Homo sapiens: one gene and its partner. The protein of the gene in region 2 interacts with the protein of the main gene of each other region in a pairwise test. Each region holds a gene or a part of one and is shown on either strand. Other genes may lie near its edges.

Region 1 (7,302 bases), on a different chromosome or scaffold from region 2:
TAGCCCCGTAGGCATGGGGGGGTTTCACGCCATCAATTCCCAGCCCCATATCTGGCAGATACTCTCCCTGGGGTGGTGGTGTAGGGGGCATCACAGCTGGGGGTCCTGGAGGTCCTGGAGGGCCTGGGGGTCCTGGAAGGCCAGGCTGGCCTTGAGGACCAAGGGCACCAGGCTTCCCTGGGGGGCCATGAAGTCCTGCCACTCCGGGTTTCCCTATACCAGGGAACCCAGGGGGCCCTGGGAGGCCCGGCTCCCCTTTGGGGCCTGGAATCCCAGGTGGTCCAATGGGGCCACTAGGGCCCCCAATCCCTGGGATACCTGGGGGGCCCTGTAAACCCTGATCCCCTGGGATTCCTGGCTCTCCCTTAGGTCCGAGAAGCCCTGGAACACCAGGGAGTCCTGGTACACCTTTTTGCCCAGCTTCCCCCTTGGGCCCTATGGGACCTGGCAAACCCCTCATGCCAGGAGGCCCTACTTCACCAAGGAAACCTGGCTTTCCTGGGAAGCCTTGAAGCCCTGGCTCACCCTTGGGACCTGGTGGCCCCTGTGGCCCTACAATCCCACCTTCTCCTTTGGGTCCAGGAAAACCAATAGCACCTGGAGGGCCCATAGGACCTGGGATTCCAGGCAGGCCTGGCTCTCCTGGAGGACCCCCTATTCCTGGGGCACCTATTGGTCCTTTCTCCCCTCTTGGTCCAAGAGCCCCAGGAACACCTCCCATGCCCCGGTCACCTTTGGGTCCTGGGAAGCCTGGTTTCCCAATCCCTGGAAGGCCTGGGGGTCCTGGTAGCCCTGGCAGTCCTTGCTCCCCTTTGCCACCTGGAAATCCTGGCTGGCCTGGGATCCCATCCTGGCCTGGCTTTCCAATTCCGGGTATCCCAGGAGGTCCTTGAACCCCCGGTACCCCAATAGGGCCTTGTGGCCCAGGTTCTCCTGGAGCCCCTGGCTTTCCCAGGGGGCCCTGGGGCCCAGGGAAGCCTGTCACTCCTGGTTTGCCCACTCCTGGCAGTCCAACAGGGCCGGGAGGGCCGTGCATCCCTGGAGGCCCCTTTACACCTGGCGCACCTGGCATCCCGAAGCCCTTGTCTCCTTTAGGACCCCGAAGGCCTTGAGGTCCTGGTAGTCCTTTGGGTCCTCGATCACCCTTTGGTCCTGGTTGCCCTGGTAACCCTGGCCCACCTGGCTTCCCAATGCCAGGAAGTCCATGAGGCCCTGGAGGTCCTTGTGGTCCTGGGATCCCCATAGGCCCAATTTCCCCTTTCTGTCCAATTTCTCCTTTTGCCCCAGGCATGCCCATGGCTCCTGGCTTCCCTGGCATTCCAGGCATACCTGGCTTTCCAACTCCTGGATATCCCTGTGGCCCTGGTTTTCCTTTAATTCCAGGTATCCCATGACCTGGCAAACCAGGGGGCCCAGGTGGTCCTCTTGGGCCAGGCTCTCCACGGGGACCTTGTTCCCCTCGTAAACTGGCTAATGGTATTTCTACTGGGAAGAGAAGAGAGAGAAGGGGTATGGGGGGAGAGAGAGAGATTGATTAGTAGATTGTCTCTCACATCAATGAAGTACTGACAACCATTATTTAGTTCTGACACATTTGCCTAATACTTATCAAGAGAAAAGACTAGGAATAATATGCTCATCTTCTAGACCTTAAAAATCAGGCCTGGCATGGTGGCTCGTGCCTGTAATCCTACAACTTTGGGAGGCCCAGGCAGATGCATCACCTGAAGTCAGGAGTTCGAGACCAGCTTGGCCAACACAGTGAAACCGCGTCTCTACTAAAAATACAAAAATTAGCCGGGTGTGGTGGCACATGCCTGTAGTCCCAGCTACTTGGGAGGCTGAGGCAGGAGAATCACTTGAACCCAGGAGGCAGAGGTTGCAGTGAGCTGAGATCACACCACTGCACTCCAGCCTGGGTGAAAGAGCGAAACTCCATCTCCAAAAGGAAAAAAATAAATAAATAAGAAAGAAAAATCAAGCTGACAATTTTTTTTTATGTATTTGAGGTATTTTTTTGATAACTGATATGTGAAGCTGCTTGTATCAACATTGGTTAAGTAAAGAAGCTAAAAAGTAATGAAGAAGAAACATTTTTCCAAGTATAAAACTTGGAGATATTATGGTGTGTTTATTATAGTGAATTTGGAAGATTCAAAGATGTATAAAGAAAAATCAAATTTGCCTATAAGCCCACTACTCAGAGATAACCACTTAACATGTATATATATTTTCATCTCATTTGTTCTATCTGTGTGTGTGTGTGTGTGTGTGTATTTTAAACAATATTGGAGTTGTTATCCAAATTATAGTTGTATTTTATTTATGGGGTACAAAGTGATACTATGATTCATGAATACAATGTGGAATAATTAAATCAAGCTAAATATATCTATCACTTCAAATACTTATTTTTATCTCGTGAGAAATTTGAAATTTACTCTTTCAGTGATTTTGAAGTGTGTAATACATTATTATTAACTATACTCGCTATTCTATGCAATAGATATCCAAAAAACAACTTATTTCTCCTGCCTAACTGAGGCTTTAAACCTTTCATCATCATCTCTCCATTCTCTCCCTCCTGCCCCACCCCAAGGCCTCTGGTAACCACCATTCTCCTCTGGGTTTCTATGAGTTCGATTGTTTTAGATTCCACATTTAAGAGAGAATATGCAGGATTTTTCTTCCTGTGCCTGGCAAAGTTTTTAAATATAATAATTTATGGCCAAGATATTTCCTCTTATGCTTAAATACAGTATGATGTGAAATAGGAAAGAATAGAGTTATTTTTTGTGTGGTTCAATAACATCTTTCCACATCTCTCCTTTAGAATTAGTAGATTTGCTTAATTTCTTGAAGGTGCTGTGGGATTTCCTAAGCCTCAAATATTAGTTCATTAATTTAACAAATAATTTCTCATATACAAATCTGGCTTTTAAGTAGGAGAGATGAATAAGATATTTTAGAATGATAAACAGTATGGATGAAGTCGAGAGCTTGACTTAGGAACAAGAAGCTCTGCTTATCTTTCTGGTCTTGGCGTGAGATTGTGACTGGGTCCCTTAAGCTGTCAGCATCTCTGCTTGCCTATCTGTACAGCAAGAATAAGAATAATACAGCCACACTACAAGATTAGAGAATAGATGTGAAAGGTGTCACCGTTTCTCAAATTGTTATTGAAATACACAGCACGTGCTGTTATAATGAACATGCTGTGCCTTTCAGATGAACACAACTCTGGATCTCCCATGCTGCTGGGACTAATGGATAACATGGAGAAATGAAATATATGGTCCCAATATCTTCTTGGCATAATACTTATGTCACTAGTAGCACCTTAATCCTGACCATTGTACTTTTTGCTGAGCTACTGTCAGAGAATAAAATACAAACAGAGAACTCATTTCGAGATATGAGGATCCATCAGAGTAAGTACAAGAAGTGCCAAAGGCAAGGCAAGCCATTCAATAAAGGAAGGAAAAGAAATGTCTGAGATAATCTTCTAAGTATAATACTAGCTCCTAAAGAGAAGAAAGTCAGGAATACTTTCTTTACATGAATAGATATGATTATAGTACTATTCAGGCATGCTATTTCTAACCAGCGAATTGTGTAGTTACTGTATTGAGGAGTTATCTGGGGAAGAGTAGGAGAGATGAATCAGGAATCCCTGGTGTCTAGCACAGAGCCTGGAACACACTCTGTTCTTACTGAGGATTTGTTGAATGAGCAGTTGTAGCAACTCCAATTTCCTATGGTGCTTTAGCATTTACTCAGCACTTTACTTACTATGTATGTCACTGATTCTCTCAACAATCTTATTTTACAAATGAAGAAAAATAGGCTCTGAAAGGTCAAATGACTAGGTCTCTCTCATTTCTGGCATCCAGGCATCTAGGCCTCTAAGTTCCAAATCCAGTAGTTCTCCAGAGGTGGAGCTTCCTGCCATTGTAGGGACTAGTGGGACTGGCTCCACTTCCTCAAAGGTAATTGCTGCTCTGATGCAGCAAGTACTAGGTTTCTGAGAACTCCAGACAAACCAAATGAATTTATCGTCAAGTGTCTGTCACACTGAGGGGCATTTTGTTGGTGCTAAATAAATACGCCAAGAAAGCAACAGGAGAGATTTTCAGGTGTCATCCCTAGATGCAGTCTATACTCTTAGTTTCCTTCTGTTGATCTATTGATTGACATATGTAATTAGAGTAGTATTAAGAACACTTGCACCTGTCTAATACTTAGTTCGCAAAATGCTTTCCTGTGACTTTTCTTTTAACACAGCAGGTCCTTACAACATTGCTCTCTTAGTTCAGAAGACTGACTTGTCACCTTTCTTTTTTTTCACTGCTTTAGCTCCCAGCATCTGGCCCAGAGCCTGACACAAATAGGTGCTCACTATAGATAGTTGCTGAATGTTTGAATAAATAAACAATAAGGGGATAGACTATTTGTGATTTAATATATTTTATTTCATCTGATGCTAGTTAAAATAATAAAGCAAAACATAAATGGTAGTCTTATCTGTGTCTTTAAGGCTTGAAGTTTTCAAGAATATGGTTAGAACACAGTAGGCATTTTAAAAATGCCAGTAACAAATTCTAAAACTAAAGCTTCTAAAATTTATCTTCCCCCTCTGATCCCATAATTTAGAGATTTGGAAAGCTGTTGTTTTATAACAGCCTGGGAGTATGATGTTACCTTTGCCTTTCTTGGGTACGGCTTCCTTGCCCATTCTTGGCGCCGGTTGAATTTCCTTCATATATTGGGGTAGGTGTGGATACTCTTTGCCATACTGCAAGTGGGGCATCTCCTTGCCCATGGCAAGGCCATCTTTGGCCAAAGGCATGTGAGGTACTTGCTGACCCAGGGGCTGGTATTGTGGAATTTGTGGTGGCATCTGAGGAGGAATTTGAGGTGGCAGCGGCTTGATCCCATAGTAGGCACCAGCCTGAATGAGCCTGATGGAACTCAGGGAAATGGTAAGCAGCACTCCCAGCAGCTGCAGAGGGCCAGGCAGCACAGCCATCACCTGTGGGAGGAACCAATGCACCAACTTGGTGAAACTCTGCAAGGCCAAGTGACTTGAGTTTATTTAGAGATAGAATGGGGAAAAAAAAGGGAAACAGTCTTTAACATCAGAACTTCATGATAGAAGTCAAATGAAAAGGAAAATGCTACTTTCTATAGAAAACAAACAAACAAAAAATAGAGAATAGTGGAATCTGTCAAATAAAGGCAATTGGTAGGAACATAGACTATGGGAGAGACTACTGGTTGTCCCCCATATCGATTCTGCCTTTCTTGCCCTGTTTTCCCGTCTTCACCTGGGAATAGAGCAGCCCAGAATGAAGACATTTCAGCCAGGCAGGGCCATTTCAGCCATTCTTGCCAATTGTGTATAGTTGTCATGGGTGTACCTTCCAGGAAGAATCCTAAAAAGGAGTGGATATGTCTTCCCCTTCCTCCTTCCTTCTGGCTGGATTGCTGATATGTTACTGGAAACAGACCACACATCTTGGACCATGAGGCGAATGCAGTGCACAGAGAATGATAAAACGAGCTAGAATAAACCTCAGTCCTGGTTAGGCTTTGTTAATAAGTGCCAAAATTATATTCTAAATGGAAACAGTTGATAATTTATAGGCTTTATGCTACAGTAGAGATTTTTCATCTGCCAGATGAGGGCTGCTTTGATGTAGTCACAAATAAATGTAAATGTAAAGAGCAAACAGGAACAAAGCCTGCAGAAGTCTTCTGAGTTGAAGAGAAAATGCTTCTTCATGTAATAGTATGAAATATTTTAAAAATCACTATCATAATTATGCACCTTTATTTCTTGTATTAAAATACTATGAATTCATTAGTTTAGAAATTGGTTAATTGGACCATTAAAGTCTATCTTTGTCCTTTTGTGAAAGAAAGTTTACAAAGCAAGAGTTGTATGAATAAGAGGGAGATGTTTAACTATTAATAAGAATACGCTGCTTCTAAGCCCATTAATAGCACTCTTTACAAATTAGCAGTAAACAGAATTAATATAAATGGGGCTTATCTGTTTATAAAAACCAGCTTGAAAAGACCTCTGTTTGGAAACGCCCTAGGCTTAAAACCAGACAGCCCAGAGAAGTGCATTGTTGGCAAATGCACACTAGAGGGCAAGTGTGATACACACTTAGGTCTGTTCAATATTCTGCCTGCCCACTCCCTGCCCTCTGTAGTTCTAATGCTGGGCATACACGAACTCCATGCTCACAATGTATAAAGGGACTTAATGAAAATTTGAATCTTAAGGGACATGTCATCATAATGCTGGAGAGAGAGAGAGAGAAGTGGCAAATTTCTCACAATTTTTAATGTAAGTATCTTCTGGAAAACTTTGAAGAAACTTCTGTCTGTAAATAATTCAATTTCCATCTTCTTGAGAGTTGTTTTCTTTGCTTTTGCCTTACTTAATTCTGGATCATAGTTTTCTACTTCTTAGAAAATGTGCGTTGATTTTGCAATATCCTATTCCAGGGTAATGCCAAGAGTGTATACAGGCTACAAAAGGATTGGTTAATAAAACACCTAATAAAATATTTAAAATGAATCCCTATCACAAAATTCAAGCTTTACAATCTTTCTAAATACACTAACAAATCATTTTTTCCCTGGAAAAAATGAAGAAACAGTTGCTAGGCCCATTTTGGATTACTAAGATGAATATAATATGGCTGGTGGGCCTTACCATCAAGGAGTTTGTACTCTTAGTGGGGGTGACAGATGTGTAAACTGTTATTGAGTAGCAAAGGATATCTAGTAAAAAGTAAATTTTCCTCCTACTTCTGTTCTCCAGTATCTAAAATCCCTTATGTTTGAAGCAACAATTTTTCCTCATATTTTTCAGATAGTCTGTGGATATGCACATATCATATACATCCCTTTCAAACATAAATTGCAGTATACTATACACACTTCTATTTTTTGCTTTTTTCACTCAAAGATCAGTACTTATTCCTTGTCTAGTTATGTGCATCTAAACAAATTTCTTTAAGTTCTTCATTTATTAAAATATGACTTGGATGTTCCCTTAAGTCTTTTCTAGCTCTAACATTCAATGTCTGTAAGACAGTTACTAGAGATCTGAAAGTGTTAATCCATACCAGAAATGTGTGGTAATATCTGGTAATGTATAAGCTGGTACTTAATTCTACTTTTGGGGATGAATGAATTTAATTATGGAACCCCAGACTTGTGGTGAAGTCTTTAATAATAAGCTAGCATGTTTGGCCCTTCAGCCTTCCATCAATTCAGTGGATA
Region 2 (3,514 bases):
CAGCCTCCCAAAGTGCTGGTATGACAGGCGTGAGCCACCGTGCCCGGCCGATGTTTGCATCTGTAACCCTTTAAAATCTTCATTGATTAAAACATAGACTGGCCGTGCACGGTGGCTCACATATGTAATCCCAGCACTTTGGGAGGCTGAGGCAGGTGGATCACTTGAGGCCAGTAGCTTGAGACCAGCCTGGCCAACATGGTGAAAACCTGTCTCTACTAAAAATACAAAAATTAGCCAGGCATGGTGGTGGGCACCTATAGTCTCAACTACTTGGGAGGCTGAGGCAGAAGAATCGCTTGAACCCGGGAGACGGAGGTTGCAGTGAACCAAGATCGTGCCACTGCACTCCAGCCTGGGCAACAGGATGAGACTCTGTCTCAAAAAACAAAAAACCAAAAACATAGAGTGAGTACAGGCTTCAGGCTCAGTCTTGGCAGGTGGCTGTAGCTAGCTAGAGTTTAATAACACTATTTAATATCATTTAATCTGACATGATTTACTTTAATGGAACTGAGCTGTTTCCATTGCATTTGTTTTCATAATTCCATTTGTGGTAATTGATCTCATTTATAGTAGTGATATCAATTTTCTTTTGAAATGAATTTATTTATATACAAAAGTGAGCCATTTAAAGAAAACATTAAGTAAATGGTGGTACAGGCAGCGTGCAACCTATCATGGTGCTATTTTGTAGGTATGGTGAAAATCATGAAAGAGGTGAATGACTGATGTTTGGAAAACTCTGCAAGAATATTCATTCTGGATGGTTGGGCTGCCTGAGGGAGAGGTCAGGGTCTGCCTGAATTGGGCATTTTTGGTGGAGGAAGCAGCATGTACGGATTGGTGTGAAAGCGTTAGGAAGGGTGGGAAGCTCGTATGGCAGTGGTGCAGAGTACTGGGGTGATACAGAGGCCTTCCTCCGAGCTCAGGCTATGGACTTTGACTCCCAGGAGGAGAAACCAGGGGTGGATGGGTTGCAGGGAAGTGTCAGCAGGCCAGTGATTATCAGAAGGCTGGAACCACCGCTGGTAGAGATAGTGCTGTCCAGCGGGCAGGGCCCCAGGCCTCCCATCGTGAACTCTTTCCGTTGGTCCCCAGCTTAGGTGCAGAGCCACAGATCCTAAATCAGAATTAGCCTGAGGAGGGAGAAAGAAAGGGTTAATTCCTTCCCATAATAGGGCTCTGGTTTCTGGCCTTGGTCTCCCATCCATGCCCCACCAGCTCAGCTCTGGTTGCCACCAAGGCAGGATTCCTCTGCCCCCTTCAAAAGGGCAAACAGAAGCCCAGAGCAGTTTAGGGCTGTCATCCAGGTGCCACAGCAAGCTCAAGAAGAGAACCAAGGACTCCCGGGTCCTCTGTCATCCTAGCAGGACTCCTCCAACCCCTATCCAGTTTCCTAATCCTGGCCATGGGAGGTCCTGACTTCTGGGGAGGCATCCTGTTAAGCTTGTAGCAATGAAGAAAGTATTAGAGCTGGGCTCGGAGAGGGGAGGCACCTGCCCTGGGCACCCAGGAGCCGTACCTCTGGCAGGATCCCGGCAATCCCGCCCGCAGGCGCTGTGGCAGCATCGCTTTTTGCCCGAGCAGTCTGAGTCCTTGTGACACAGGTGGTTCATGGGGCTGAGGCAGCGCAGTTGGTCCTCTGGGCAGCTGCCCAGCTTCACTGCAACACAGGGAACTGGGTGAGCTCCGTCCTTGCCCACTGGCCCTGAAGCTTGGGGCTTGGATGGTCAGCAAGGTGGAGGGGAGGCATTTACCAGAGACCCTGGGGACACACTGGCGGAAGCAAGCTCTGTAGCAGCACTTCCTGGTCAAGGGACACTGGCTGTCTTCCACGCACTGGTCAGGCACCGATAGGAGGCAGGGCCCATCATCTGGCGGGCAGCCCCCCGATTTCTCTGTAAGAGAATCTCCTAATATTGCAGCTGGAGGAAGCTCACGGTTATGTAATAAGCGCTGACCTGGGAATGACAAGACTGAATTCTCCATCCCTTGCTTTTTGCCTGTCTTTTGGCTAGTTGTTATTTTTGTTTGTTTGTTTGTTTATAATGACTCCAAGCCTCAGTTTTCTGGCTGTGAAATGGGAAGCTGGGCTAGTTTGAGACTCAGATGGCACAAATGACAGGGGAAAATGAAGCCCAACATCTCCACTGTGGCCAATAAGGCCATGCCTGGTCTGGGCCCTGCCCATCTCTCTAGCCCCATCCTCTACTGCCCTCCCACTCAGTGCCTCCTGATCTGCTCCAAGCCAGCTCTCTCTGCAGGGCTCTTGCTCGGGCCGCATCCTTTGCCTAGTGCACTTCTCCTGTACTCCATGCGCCTGGTCAGCTCATTAGGACTCAGCAGAAACATCGCATCCTCAGAAGACCCTACTTCTCTGACCCCACATTAACTAGGTCAGCGCCCCCCCACCCCGGCCCCCACACACACACTCATTTCTTTCCTCCAGAGTTTGTGATGCTGCATCTGTTTGTCTGTGTCTCTCACTTGGCTGGAGGTGAGGAGAGTAGACACCCTGCCAGCTTTGCTCACCGTTGGTCCATATCACAGCCCTTGGCGCACAGCAGTAGGGCTCAGTGACTTGGAAAGAAAGGGTTTTGAAGTGAGGCCCAGCATTGCACGTGCGTCAGCAGTGGCCAGCCTGGTGCACTGTCACAGCCACAGCTGGCCACGTCTTCTGCACCGTTGCGTTCATCACTGTTGCAAATGGCATGGTTTCGAGGATCAGGCGTTAACTCTGTCTCTGAGGCGTTCCTCTGAATGGTATAGAGTGTCCTGTCCCAGAGCTTACCTAACATTCTTCTTGCTGGGATTTTGGGCCATGTTCATATTTCATGCACAAAGCTGGAAATCAGTATCCTCCTCCATGTAGAGGAGGAAATCAAGGCCTGAAAAGGGCAGTGACTTGTCCAGACCCACATGGGCTGGGCTTAGGACTCCCAGGGCCCGGCTCCCTCTGACCTCTGTGAGTGTCCACCCTGAGCTGTCTTTGAGCTGTAGGGATGGAGCAGGTCCCAGGTCTTCAATTCAATCCAGCATCAGAGAAAATGTTCAAGAGTTCCGAGGGGCAGCTGGATCTGGTTCTGTGACTTTACCTCTGTGTCCGCCCCTCCCCCTCAGCCCCCTGCCTGGGTGCTGGCTGCACACATAAGTAGGCACCTTGCTCACATCCTACGTGCGCTAAGTCAACTTCAGCTGTCACATCGGGTTGGTTTAAATTAAATTGCTGCCCCCTGCTGGAGAAAGAGAGGCTTGGCGTGGGGAGGGGGAAAAAGTGTGGGTTTGGGGTGGTGGGGGTGATGGGAGGGTTCCTGGGAAACTGTCTGAGGTCCAAGGTTTAGCCCTGAATTCACAAGTCCAAGTCAAAGGTGCGCAGGCCTCAAAGGGTGGGCCAAACGGAGCTGCGTGCACTCAAAGCCGGTGGAGCCGGGTGGGTCAGGCAGGGAGAGCTTCTGTGGCGAGGGGCCTGGGGCTGGCCTTGGGGAATGGACAGATAGGGATGGGGCATGAC

The links.
Region 1: the proteins of WFDC5 (region 2) and COL8A1 interact in binary tests that used the Homo sapiens proteins (3 or more experiments, as listed by UniProt).

What each region holds. Positions count from the first base shown.
Region 1 is NC_000003.12:99,788,410-99,795,711, reverse strand, and holds part of COL8A1 (collagen alpha-1(VIII) chain precursor), read right to left. Parts: intron 5,033-7,302; 5' UTR 5,030-5,032; coding exon 4,702-5,029; intron 1,483-4,701; coding exon 1-1,482. UniProt on the Homo sapiens protein: Macromolecular component of the subendothelium. Major component of the Descemet's membrane (basement membrane) of corneal endothelial cells. Also a component of the endothelia of blood vessels.
Region 2 is NC_000020.11:45,108,875-45,112,388, forward strand, and holds the end of WFDC5 (WAP four-disulfide core domain protein 5 precursor), read right to left. Parts: exon of another isoform or gene 1,993-3,514; coding exon of another isoform or gene 1,902-1,992; coding exon 1,761-1,901; intron 1,667-1,760; coding exon 1,526-1,666; intron 1,140-1,525; coding exon 1,135-1,139; 3' UTR 589-1,134; downstream 1-588.